Regions from separate parts of the Homo sapiens genome. Here all the other regions are reported to be linked to region 2. Evidence: microRNA targets listed by miRTarBase, many of them from high-throughput screens and not tested one by one. Region 2 holds a microRNA gene; each other region holds the end of a gene's coding sequence.

Region 1 (3,137 bases), not on the chromosome of region 2:
AACCAAGTGCTAGAGGTGGGAGTGGGAGGGGGAAAGGGACAGACAGTCCTGATCTCCCACTGTGTATCGGGCACCCAGTGTGTCTGAGCCACGCACTTCTAGGCTTCGTGCATGTGAAGATTAAGCGCATGTGAAGTGCTTAGCCCGTGGCCCTGTGGGTAATAAGCAGTCAGCCACTATGGTCACGGTGACCTTGGAAAGGTAGAGGCAATGTGCTTTGGTAGGGAGAGCTTGCTGTGAGCCAGGCCTGGCCTCCAGTGCCAGGTCCTCCTCCTCGCTGTGTGCCCACGAGCTCACTCGCTTCCACCTCTTTGAGCCTGAGTGCCCTCCTTGTAAAACAGAACGTTGGAACTCCCTCACGGGGCTATGGTGCGGCTTCCGTGAAATCAGGCACAGAAGGTGCAGGGTGAAATGCCCAGAAGGCTTTTGCTGCTGCTGTTGTATCTCATTGAATCTCTCTGATTCTCAGAGAGAGATTTTGTCATCCTTGTTTTAAAGATGAGGAAACAGGCTCAGAGAGGTGCAGTGAGTTGCCCAAGGTCCCACAGCAAGTCAGTTGACAGAGCCAGGATTTAAACTCAGATCTGGGCCCTGAGTCCACCCTTCTTCTCTGTGCCTTTGAGGTTCTCTGGGGGGCAGCAGGGTGGGGCAGGCCCCCAGCTCAGCCACCTCCCATGCCCTCCTCTTGCAGGTCATCCTTTTTCAGTACTAACGCTGCCGGCACTTCCGCATCTGCCCGTGGGCGCCCCACAGCTGCCCCTCAGCCGCTGAGATCCAGTGTCCAAGCTGCGGCCAGGAGTCCACCCACCTCCGCATCCACCCCCGTCCGCCATCCTGCCCACCACCAGGTCGGTTCCCGAGGCCTGGCCTTTCCCTCTCCTGCTGAGAACCAGAACCCACCAGGAGCACCACAGAGTCCTCCTCTTGGAAGGCAGAACTCCCTGAAATCTGGAATCAGGGTGGAAACAGCCTGTTTTTCCCATTTAAACAGGAGTCCTCTTCAACTTCAGCTGATTACAATAACAAAAGGCGGAATTGAATTGTGCGATGCCAACGGCCTTCTCATTTACAGGTTTTTTTCCCCCACATTGGCCTTTATTTACTACTTCCTTGGAACCATCTCTGAATTCTGAATAGCTGACAACCCCCAATGTTATCCACTCTGTTGCTTTTGTCTGGAAAACTCTACAGTGTTTGTGGGATGTCCCCAAAGGAAAGCTATGTTCTAATTTTATCATTTCCATCTGTCTGGTTATGTCAAGTTAATTCAGAAAGAGAAGAGACAGTGACCAACCCTGAGAGGCCTAATAGGGCAGAGATGGAGGCCTGCCCAGACTAGGAGGCAGCGGGGATAGACAGGGAATGGGGAGAAGAAAGACCCCCATTGGTTTGGAAATCAAGGAGAGGGCGGTGACATATTGGACCAGAAGAGGCACTAGCCATTTTAAGGAGAGGAAAGAGAAAACTCTGGGGTCAGGGAGAGACCCTACCCCCACCTAATTATCCAGCATATATGTAAGAAACATAGCAGCGATGGTATTCGATCTGTGCCATGACTCTTCTGAATGTTTGGACAGGTTAGAGTTGGGGACCCCTGTTGGCCACTTGTTGACCTCTCATAGTGGTGCTTGGGCCAGGTCTTCTCAATGGAAGGGGAATCCCTTATAGGGGAGAGGGAACAGAGCCCAGTGAAATGGCAGTCAGAATGTTAACCCTGGATCCATCTCTAAGTAGAGAGAGGGTGCCCATTGCCTAGGTGAGTGTGCCAAGCTCAGGATTCCAACTGGTGCCTCTGAGCTTCCCAATCAATACTTCCTGGAGCCAGCCCCACCCACCCCTGAGAACAGAGGTCAGACACAGCTGCGTAACATCCATCCTGCTACAACTCTTCCACCCCAAACAAAAGGGCTCAGGCTACACACGACCATGATTTATGTTTTCAGGGGATGCCCATTTGTCCCAAGCTTATCCTGTAATTCTAGAATTACCTGGTGTCCTGATGCATTTTCCACTAGAGGTTGCTAATCAGCATGTTTTAGCCCAAGTCCGCCTTCCTGCTGTGGTTAACCTGTTATGTTGCTTTTGGAAGGAGACTCTAAGACAGGGAAAGCAAGTTCATGGTACATACGCAGCCATTGTCTCTGTTTTTACCCATGGCAGACATTGCTAATCAATGGCAGCTCTATTTCACTGAGTCTGGATAAGGTTTCAGAGTTCAAATGCTTGACGTTGGCACTTAACATGAAAGCCTATAGGTCATTCTTGCTCTGGGATCTACAGGCAGGGTAGGCACAGGTGCAGCCTAAGAAGGGAACCTGCTTCCTCTCCCTTCCAAAGACAGTGACAGCTGACTGAGGGCAAAGAGCAGGCACCACTCAGAACGTGGTGAGTACAGCTCAGCTCAGCACTCAGTCAGTGGTAACTTGTGCCCAGCCCTGTGCTAGGCGCTGACATTAACAGGAGCAACCAGGGCCCAATTCCTGGCCTTGGAGCTCAAATCTTTCCTTTGATTTTTGCTCCTGATCATCAAGGCCCCAGTGGCAACCATGTGGTAAGTGGCCAACCAAGCCCTACCCAGGGTCACCCAACACACTCTGCCTTGAGCCTCTCCTCAGGGTCTATTCCTTGCGTGGATTATGTGGCCGTAGCATGTTACAGTTCAAACATGTCTCCACTACCCTGTTAAGAGCAGCCTGGGAACGTACAGGCCATCAAGACTATTTATTTAAATACAAAAAAAGGGGAAAACACACACACGGAAAAAAAATTGTAAGCACTTTTTTTGTAAAACCAATGTCTGTTTTGTTACATACCTTTCATGTCGTGCTTTGTAAATGTCTTATTTGTGTAATAAAGTTAATGCAAGTAGAAGTGCTGGCACTGAAATCCAGAACATGATGGGATTCCATTTCTTTCCTGCTCTCTGGTGAAGGGCTTAGGTCCCTGGCTCCCAGAATATGTGGGCTGCTGGACAGTGTAATCCTCCTTCCTGGGAAACGGGTACCATTTCCCAGTTAGTAAACAATGGATTGTGGAGGCCTGACGATGGGTTTCTTCTGTAAGTACTCAGTCACACCTGCTTCTTATCTAAGCTTTGGAGGAAATCAGGCTGCTTGATGCCCTCTGTTCCAGTCTCT
Region 2 (3,137 bases):
TAGAATTTTCAGTAGTATTTTTACATTCTTAAAAATTGTTACTCCCGGCTGGGCACGGTGGCTCATGCCTGTAATCCCAGCACTTTGGGAGGCCGAGGCCAGTGGATCTCCTGAGGCCAGGAGTTCAAGACCAGCCTGGTCAACACGGTGAAACCCTGCTTCTACAGAAAATACAGAAAATTAGCTGGGTCTGGTGGCACATGCCTGTAATCCCAGCTACGTGGGAGGCTGAGGCAGGAGAATCGCTTGAACCCAGGAGGCGGAGGTTGCAGTGAGCTGAGATTGTGCCATTGCCCTCCAGCCTGGGCAACAAAAGCAAAACTCTGTCTCAAAAAAAAAATTGTTACTCCTTTATTGTTTTTTTAGTTGACACATAATAATTTGTAAATATTGATGAGATATAGTGAGATGTTTTGATACATACATGCATTGTGTAATAATCAAATCAGGGATTTAGTATTTTCATTACCTCAAACGTCCATCACTTCTTTGTGGGAAGAACATTCAAAACCCTCTCTTCTAGTGATTTTGGAATATACCATAAAATATTGTTAACTAACTATAATCAATCACTCTTCTGCACAATAACACATCAGAACTTTTAGCCCTCCTAACTGTGACTCTGTACCCATAAACCAATTTTTCCCCAACCCCCCTTTCCCTTCCCTTCCCCAGACTCTGGTAACCATCATTCTACTCTCTACTCCTATGAGATCAACTTTCTTAGACTCTGCGTATGAGTCAGATCATGCAGTGTTTGTCTTTGTGTTTGCATTGCCCTATTTTGTGAGCATTCGTTTTGGGGTTGTTTGTTTCATTGTTCACATGTTTATTTGCATGTGTGGCATGCATGTGTTCACATGTGTTGCAGATATTTCTTGGTCTAAACACTGGTTTGCAAGTGCATGACTGTGGTGACTACTGCTTCTGCTGCTGTAGGCCTTCATCTCTGAACAGAGGATGCCAAACCAAGGCCCCAATGATATAAAGAAGATTCAAATTGGAAAGAAGAGAACTCTCCAGCACTGCTTCAACTGAGCTCTATCTGGCCTGCAATCGCTAGATATGATGAGTCACTTGAGTGGTCCTTTCTATGTAATGACTGGCTTTTGAGGCATATGAAGTAGTTGTTCATGTGCCAACTATATTAAATTGAAAATTAGCAGAACAATTTAGTGAAGTATGCTAAGTCTGGGAGGAAGAGGGAAAATTTTCTCTCTCCTAAAATCTGTCTCATTAAATGTGCAGCAGGTGAAGTAATTAATAAGCATTCAGTGAAAGACATAGGAGACAAAAGGGAGAGGAAAAAGGGTTTGTTTTTTTTTTAATCTATTGACTATATTCTGCTTATTCCTAGTGGACTGAGAGTGTTGGGATTCTGACTGAAATGGCGGAGTGAGGGACATTTTCCGCTGTGCTGTGTGTAGTGCTTCACTTCAAGAAGTGCCATGCATGTGTCTAGAAATATGTTTTGCACCTTTTGGAGTGAAATAATGCACAACAGATACAAGTCAGAACTACCCACTCAGTGATGGGTCAACTCATACAACCCTTTAAAGAGAATTCTGTGGGGTAAAACCTAGAGGATGAGGTTCTCTGGGAATAGCCTCATCTGTAGTTTCCCCGTGTTACTATTAAGATGGTCAGTGCCACCACCATCAGCCATACTATGTGTAGTGCCTTATTCAGGAAGGTGTTACTTAATAGATTAATATTTGTAAGGCACCCTTCTGAGTAGAGTAATGTGCAACATGGACAACATTTGTGGTGGCATTGGTAATGACGAGTGGAATTTCAGTGACAATACTGCCCTCCCTTGAGCCTTGGTACCCAACCTTTAGTGATGAGCCATTTCCAGGTACTCTCTGAAGTACCTCTTGAGAGATCTGCTCCAGAATCTGAGGGTGCCTGGGAAAAGTCTCTCATGTAGGTTTTTCAATTATTTATTGCTTTTTCTCCACAAAATGACTGACTACACTGGAAACAAGATTTGAGGTAGGAACATGATACTTCTTTTTCTCTTGTACCTCTTAGTCTTTTCTCTCTATAACAACCCAAATACACTTCTTGCCTTATAAACCCCTGAGAAGTTTACACTGATCTTCTTTCCTCACAATATTTAAGCCTTCTTTTTAGGGAGCACAAATATCCTCCTGCCCTTCCCTGCTGAACTCCAAACTCCATGAACCATCTTTCTTATGAAGTGATCTCCTCAAGGCTTAGATACACTCAAATTCCCTTTAATATTCCTGTGTATCCGTGATGATAATCTCATATCAGTGGAGTTTGATATGATACCCCAAATTTGCTTTCATTTGAACTATTTATATGTTTTTAGCTGGTCTTAACTATTATGGGAACGGATGAAGTGATGAGAACATATATGTATGAACATGTGTGTACATATACTTCTGGAAACTTTACATATACAAAGGGGTTTATATATCCCTTTATATATATATATATATATATATATATATATATATATACACACACACACACACACACACACACATACATATGACATTCACAGAAAAAGGAAAAGGATGCAGAAAAAGGATCATGTTCCTACCTCAAATCTTGTTCCCAGTGTTTTGTAGTCCTTTTGTGGAGAAAAAGGAATAAATGCTTAAAAAACCTACAGGACATACTTTTCACAGGTACCCCAGGCACCCTCAGATTCTGGATCAGGTCTTATAAGACCTTCAAAGAAACACCCAGGACAATGATTGAGCAAATATATATGTATATAATTATTATAGAAGTCTATTTTTAAAATAAATCCCTTAAGATATTTATTATAAGGATACTGCAAGGAATAACCTCAGGCAACTATGGAGGCTGGTGAGTTCCTAGATCTGCAGGGGGATGGGTCAGCAAGCTGGGGACCCAGGAGAACTGATGGTATAGTTGCAGTCCAAGTCCAGAGGCCAAAGAAGCAGTAGAACAAACCATTTTGTAGTTCCAGTCCAAAGGCCAGCAGGTTTGAGACCCAGGAAGAGCTAATGTTTTAATTTGAGTACAATGCCAGAAAAAAATGAGATGCCCCAGTTTGGAGGCAGTCAGGCAGGAGGAATTCTCTCTAACTTAGGGGAGAGTCAGCCTTTTTGTTCCATTTAAACCTTCATCTGATTGGT
Region 3 (3,137 bases), not on the chromosome of region 2:
ATCTTCATACATTGAGTCTTCATGCATCAATGAAATGAAAAATATAGGATTATTTATTTACTTTTTGTAACTAAGTGGGAAATAAGAAAAAAAGTTAGAAAGTACTTAAGGGGAAAATCGTTCTTACTAAGTCATGTATTTTCAACTTGTCTTCCCTGGTATATCATAAATACCGACATATTACATACCCCATGTAAAATTTTGCTTAAACTCTCTAGCACTTGGCATGTAGAATATGTACCATAGGTATCAGGTTAAAACACTAAAGTCTGCCAGAAACTTTTGACAGTAGCAAGAAAATTGTTGAAGAAAAAATAAATTATTTACTGAGGGTAGTTATGTTAAAGTTTTGCGAACTTAAAGGGCTGACTTTAGTTCCTTCATGGTAATGGCTTGAGTAACATCATCTTTGGGATTTTTTAAATACTGGTCCAGTCTAGGAGAACCTGGAAGATGACCAGAGGTATTTCAGTTTCCCTAGGGAGAGCTTCGTTATCCATGTGGATGATAAGTCTGCTTGATTTATTATTAAATCATTATAGCAGTGAAGTGGTGCCATTTTCTCTCTCTTAAGCCCCATTTGAAAGGCTAGAGAAGGGGATATATATACTATGTTCAAGGTTTGTAAGGTTGTTAATGTACATAATTGCAGATTGCAATAAAAGCTTAGATACATTTTGTAAACCCAACCCACTAAATGAGCAGGTTACAAGACAAATGTCACCAGCCTCAAGTATTTTATGAACTATTTACTGAGGGTAGTTATGTTAAATAGATTATAATGTGGTAAATTATTTCCTGAATCCTTTATCACAGGAAAAACACAGACCCTCATAAAAGGGATAATTAAAACGGATGTGTCTGAACATTTAGTGAAGATGAGACTTAAAACATGAAAGTGTATTTGTGTATTTTGAGGGTTTTAGAAACCGGTTGCCTTAGAGGTTAGACTTTTGAAGAAAAAAAAAAAAAGATACAGATCTTTTCCCCTGGCCAAAGGGAAGTTGTATTAGTCTGTGACATCTTGTGATGCTGTTTATCTTGGTTTGACATTGGAGATACGCTAGTAACTGTGATACCATACTATAAAACAGAAGAATTTTCTGCTACTAAAAACTGCCTTTTTACAAAATGACTGTAAATATTTGTAAAATAAAATAACACTAAACTTTAAGCCCAAAAGGAGAGATAGAGCCATGTGTTCAGTTGTGGACCTGTCCGTGGGGCACAGTGCCACCCCATCACAGTGTTGCTGTCATCAGGCAAAAGTGAATGTTTGTTTATGGCAAATTCGTCTTTTGCGAATGGCTTAATTCTGACACTACCTTTCTGGGAAATGTTAATAAATTTTTAATATTCACTTCTATGTGTCTTGATTTGTTTGCTCTTTGTGTGTGGAGTTAATTTGGCCTTGCAGACATAAATGCTTTAATAAAGCGGCTTTGGAGACAACGGCAGGGCTTTTCCATTTCAGCAGGCAGGCACGGAGGTATCTTTATTGCCATGTCTAATGTGGCCTGGGGAAGAGCACTCAAGATGGAGACAAGGCGTGGGTTTGGGCCCAGCTCCCAACTTGGATGTGTGACTTTAAACCAATCAGATAACCTCCAAACACATTTTCTGAGATTTTTAAATGACTGCAAATTGTTGAAGACACAGAATGAATGATTGTGAAAACCATTTTGTAAGCTCTGAAGTACTAAGACAATTTGTGAGCCCTACAGAGAACACAGGATTAACAGTTAAGGTGTTACAGCTTTGGGCCAAGTGTGAGTTAGAGCTCTCTGGCTAAGAGAATAGAAATTGGTTTGCCCACCTCCCACCCCTTCACCTCTAGAAGAGGAGGGCTTAAGAATGGGAGGTGTGATGCCGAGGGGTAGGAATCTAACCAGAACCCAGCAGAGCCGTCAGGATCCTGGTCCCACGGGTAAAATGAGTACATCATGGAGAGGACCACAGCAGAACTTTTTTTTTTTTGGTTGTATATATATATATATATATTTTTTTTTTTTTTTTTTTTTTTTTTTTTTGAGGCGGACTCTTGCTCTTGTCACCCAGGCTGGAGTGCAGTGGCGGGAACTTGGCTCACGATCTTGGCTCACTACAACCTCTGCCTCCTGGGTTCATGCCACTCTCCTGCCTCAGCCTCCCGAGTAGCTGGGACTACAGGCGCCCGCCACCACACCTGGCTAATTTTTGGTATTTTTAGTAGAGACGGGGTTTCACCGTGTTAGACAGGATGGTCTTGATCTCCTGACCTCATGATCCGCCTGCCTCAGCCTCCCAAAGTGGTGGGATTACAGGTGTGAGCCACTGCGCCTGGTCTGGTTGTATAGATTCTGTAGCCACTCACTATGAAGAAATCGTTTATGATACTATGCAGACTATGAAGAACACAACAGACTTTAGATTTGAATAATTTATTCTAACAAAAGTATAAAGTATGGAAAATTAGTGTATTTGAATCATTTCAGAGAGTAGAGCAAGTTTCACACTAGCAGATTTCAGATTTTAGCACCTTTGAAATGAAATATTCAGAGTTAAGACAAGTGGCAACGCAGGCTGCAGGTGACCTACAGGGATACTCATCTGACTTCGGTGCCATTCACATCACAGTGCGGTCATTTGGTTTTTTCCTCTACATTGTGAAAGTGCCACAAAACAAAGAGAATGAGAAAAGAGTTCACTGAATTCATGGCTGGTGGTTAGAGGATGAACTAGAGACAAAAGGAGAAAGGCCATAGGCTGGACTGCAGGTCAAATAGACAGTCCGAAGGCACTGACGATGCAGTACATGGTCTTATTCTCCCATCGCACAGTGCAGCTCCCTGCGGGAGGGAAGAGAGCAGCATTTACGGCAGGGAAAGCTGGGGGACGACGTTTTACTCACAATAAGGCCAACATTCAAGTACCCATCTCTATGCTACACAAAGAACCTTGGCAAGTCTATTATTAAATGTTTTAAAAGGTGATAAACATGCATTGCATTCAAAGATAGGAAACTTCCAGTCATATATTTCACACAACAAAACTTCACAAACATGAATGAAAATCATACCGTCAGTAGAGCTGTCCCAGAAGCAGGAACTTGCTGTGTGTAATCCAGCTCCATTCTTCTGCATAATTACACAGGTCAC
Region 4 (3,137 bases), not on the chromosome of region 2:
TCTATGCCGAAAAAAAAGGGGGGGGCCAGGGTTCTCACCATGTGTCCCTGCCCCATGGCAGACAACTAAAGTAGAAATATAACCGCTCCTCTGGTCCCTTCCCTAGCTCTAGAGGCTCCTCTCCCCAGGTCTACCTGCTCTGCCTACAGAAACACATCCTTGGTGTGTTCAATCTTTTCACTTCCCTGGGCCACACTGGAAAAATTGTCTGTAGCTGGACAAGCTTGGTCTAAGTATTTTCTCAGCTGTTCTGTCCTGAGCCAAGTGAAAGTGCCAGGGAGGTTCCTCTTCTCCATGTAATCACTGGGCTCTGAAAGGATCTGGGCTTTTGTGAGGTCATTCAGCACGAAGGGAAGGCAGTGCCAGAACTCTGAGGGTCTCCTCCCAGACCCTCAGTTCAAGGCCTAATGCTCGGTCGCCCTTTACAACAGCCCCCTACCCTCCCTTCCCTCAAGTAACAAGTCATAAAGCTAGTTTCACCCAGCCCCAAAGGCTACAAGTAACGGGCACCCTCTGCTAACTGACAATACTGGGCAAATACAGATGTTCTCCACGCCAGTTTCATCATGTACAAAATCAGGATAAGATCTACCACAAAAGGCCATGAGGATTAAATGTAGTCTTCTGCAAGACCATTAAACTGACAGCAGGATGCAACGGCATGTACCCAGCCAGTGGCCTAACCTTGCAGGCACAGGTTAGACTAGGCACTGCCTTACCCTGTTCGATTCTTAGTGTTGGTTTCTAGTGAAACGCTCCAAATAAACTCAAAATTCAAAAGTATTGTTCCAAACCCTCAGGACAGGAACTATCAATCTAGTTTGCCAAGAAATGTACTTTTCATTAACTTCTGATCAGGGGCAAAAATATAATGGGTCAGAACTGAAGAATCCCATACTGAGAACTTTTAAACAAAACTTAGCTACACATTGCCTCCCACTCATTTTTGCTTTCCTTGTACTGATGTCCTTTGAACACTAGTCTGAACTGCAGAATCCACTTATACACAGACTTACTTTCACCTCTGCCATCCCTGAGACAGCAAGACCAACTCCTCCTTTCCTCCTCAGTCAACTCAAGATGACAAGGATGAAAACCTTTATGATCCATTTCCACTTAATGAATAGTAAATGTATCTTCCTTATGGTTTTATTTCCTTTTCTCTAGCTTACATTATCGTAGTACAGTATATAATACATACATATAACACGTAAAATATGTGTTCACAACTGTTTATGTTATTGCTAAAGCTTCTGGTCAACCGTAGGCTACTGGTAGTCAAGTTTTTGGAGTCAAAAGTTATACATGGTTTTTTGACTGCATGGGGGTTGGTGTCCAACCTCCACACTGTTCAAGGGTTTACCGTAATACCAAAGCTAAAAACAATCTACATAAAATAGTAAAATAAAGCTGTCCATTCAACAGTAAATCTTTGGCTGTGAAAAACCATGAGTAGGCCAGACGCAGTGGCTCATGGCTATAATCCCAGCACTTTGGGAGGCCAACACAGGCGGATCACTTGAGGTCAGGAGTTTGAGACCAGCCTGGCCAACATGCTGAAAGCTTGTCTCTACTAAAAATTAGCCAGATGTGGTGGTGGGCGCCTGTAGTCCCAGCTACTCAGGAGGCTGAGGCAGGAGAATTGCTTGAACCCAGGAGGTGGAGGTTGCAGTGAGCCGAGATCACACCACTGCACTCCAGCCTGGTGACACAGCGAGACTCCGTCTCAAAAAAAAAAACAAAAAGTATCAAAAGAAAAAACTGGAAAAACAAAACAAAAAAAACACCCGTGTGCTAACATGAAAGTGTACAGGCTGTGCTACTAAAAGGGAAAATGCCAAGTTGCCACCACAGTCCCTATGGAGTAATGTCTTGCATATTCTGGGCACACAAGAAGCATACAGGGAGGGGTTGGGAGCTTTAAGTTGGACAGTAGCTCTCACTTGTTAAGATATTCACATCACCTAAGAATGATATTAGGCTAACTGATCAGGAGCCCAGGTGATTCGAGTATGAAAGAAAACCATGAGAACAAATTTTCTAAAAACTGTAGGCTTTTTTATTCAGTTAAGAGGTAGACAAATGAACATGGAAGGCTGTCCCACTTAACTTGCCCAAAGTTCACATTCCACTTCATTCATCCATCCCACACTGCCAGAAATCTTAAAGAAATAACCAAGATTGCCAACAGGCTTTTTCTTTCTTACTTCTTCTTAGCAATAACAGTCAATAAACTGCTTGCAAAAAAGTTACTAATTTAAATTTTCACTGTGTTCAAAGAACCTCATCCCTCTAAGAAGCTCCCGAATATGCCAATAGATCCTGCCACTACTGACAGGAGGGCAGAGTACCAAGGACTCTACTTATATAAGAGACTACAAGGGAAGTTGTAGTTATATTTTTGTTGTTAAATCCCTGTGCATGTGAGGGCAGAAGCTGGTGAAACCAACAACGCAGAGCATGCTCTGTCAAACGGCTCTTCATGGTTTAAAAAAAAGAAAAAAAAATCACAAGTCATCTTCAGAGACAACATTAAAACATAATGGAATTGAAGCCTGATACAAAAAGTAGAGAAATATGTACAGGAATTCACAGCCCAGAAGGAAAGGGGACCTCAGCAGGAGCCAGTGGAACCCGGGCTATTTTACACAGCTAATTTTGAGACAATTCATATTTAGCACAAAAGCAGTTATAGCACAAGTAACACTTCCCTCCTCTGGCTCCCAAATAAAAAGACTCTTGTCAGTCTTCTGTTAACACTGTAATCATTCTTCAGGGGAGCAGGAATACCTAAGATGGTCCCAAACATTGACACAAATTTTAATCTCAAACAGCTTCACATTCTGAGGATGACATATCTGAAGATTGCCATGATGGCAGCACTGATAACTCCAGAAATGGGGACTGTGACAAACCAGGCCATAAAAATGTTACGAAAGAGACGCCAGTCAACAGCCTTCTTGGACCGGAGCCAGCCAACAGACACAACAGAGCCCACCTAGAAGAGAAGCAGACCAAGGAAACAGGTTATTGAAGTGCCAGTGGTATTCTGGCAAACAGACACCTGAGACTGTTTGGACAAGGAGCCCCAGACCCCTGGACAAGACAAAGTCCAAGAAAGCTGGTTTACAACAGGT

Evidence for each region. The annotated mature microRNA hsa-miR-506-5p reads UAUUCAGGAAGGUGUUACUUAA and lies in region 2 at 1,683-1,704, shown strand. An mRNA with a match to its seed (bases 2 to 7 or 8) in the 3' UTR can be bound and repressed. Matches are read on the target gene's strand: a 7mer-m8 pairs with bases 2 to 8, a 7mer-A1 pairs with bases 2 to 7 and ends in A, and an 8mer does both.
Region 1: the mRNA of LHX6 is a reported target of hsa-miR-506-5p. Seed matches in the 3' UTR shown: 7mer-A1 at 1,130-1,136.
Region 3: the mRNA of DYNLT1 is a reported target of hsa-miR-506-5p. Seed matches in the 3' UTR shown: 7mer-A1 at 2,532-2,538.
Region 4: miRTarBase lists SLC20A1 as a target of hsa-miR-506-5p. Seed matches in the 3' UTR shown: 7mer-A1 at 2,061-2,067.

What each region holds. Positions count from the first base shown.
Region 1 is chr9:122,202,335-122,205,471 of GRCh38, reverse strand. LHX6 (LIM homeobox 6) reads left to right here. Exons shown (of 10, transcript NM_014368.5): 10 at 692-2,890. The coding sequence ends at 712. Among named protein-coding and RNA genes, the nearest start is that of LHX6, 25 kb to the left of the region's middle.
Region 2 is chrX:147,229,355-147,232,491 of GRCh38, reverse strand. MIR506 (microRNA 506) reads left to right here and starts at 1,649; the gene lies at 1,649-1,772. It overlaps MIR507 (microRNA 507), which reads left to right and starts at 1,415; the gene lies at 1,415-1,508. The region is part of intron 2 of LOC105373347 (periphilin-1); the gene reads right to left.
Region 3 is chr6:158,634,070-158,637,206 of GRCh38, forward strand. DYNLT1 (dynein light chain Tctex-type 1) reads right to left here. Exons shown (of 5, transcript NM_006519.4): 4 at 3,059-3,136; 5 at 2,405-2,828. The coding sequence ends at 2,758. It overlaps TMEM181 (transmembrane protein 181), which reads left to right. Exons shown (of 17, transcript NM_001376852.1): 17 at 1-1,360. Among named protein-coding and RNA genes, the nearest start is that of DYNLT1, 9.1 kb to the right of the region's middle.
Region 4 is chr2:112,662,725-112,665,861 of GRCh38, reverse strand. It overlaps SLC20A1 (solute carrier family 20 member 1), which reads right to left. Exons shown (of 11, transcript NM_005415.5): 11 at 2,037-2,998. The coding sequence ends at 2,837. Among named protein-coding and RNA genes, the nearest start is that of SLC20A1, 18 kb to the right of the region's middle.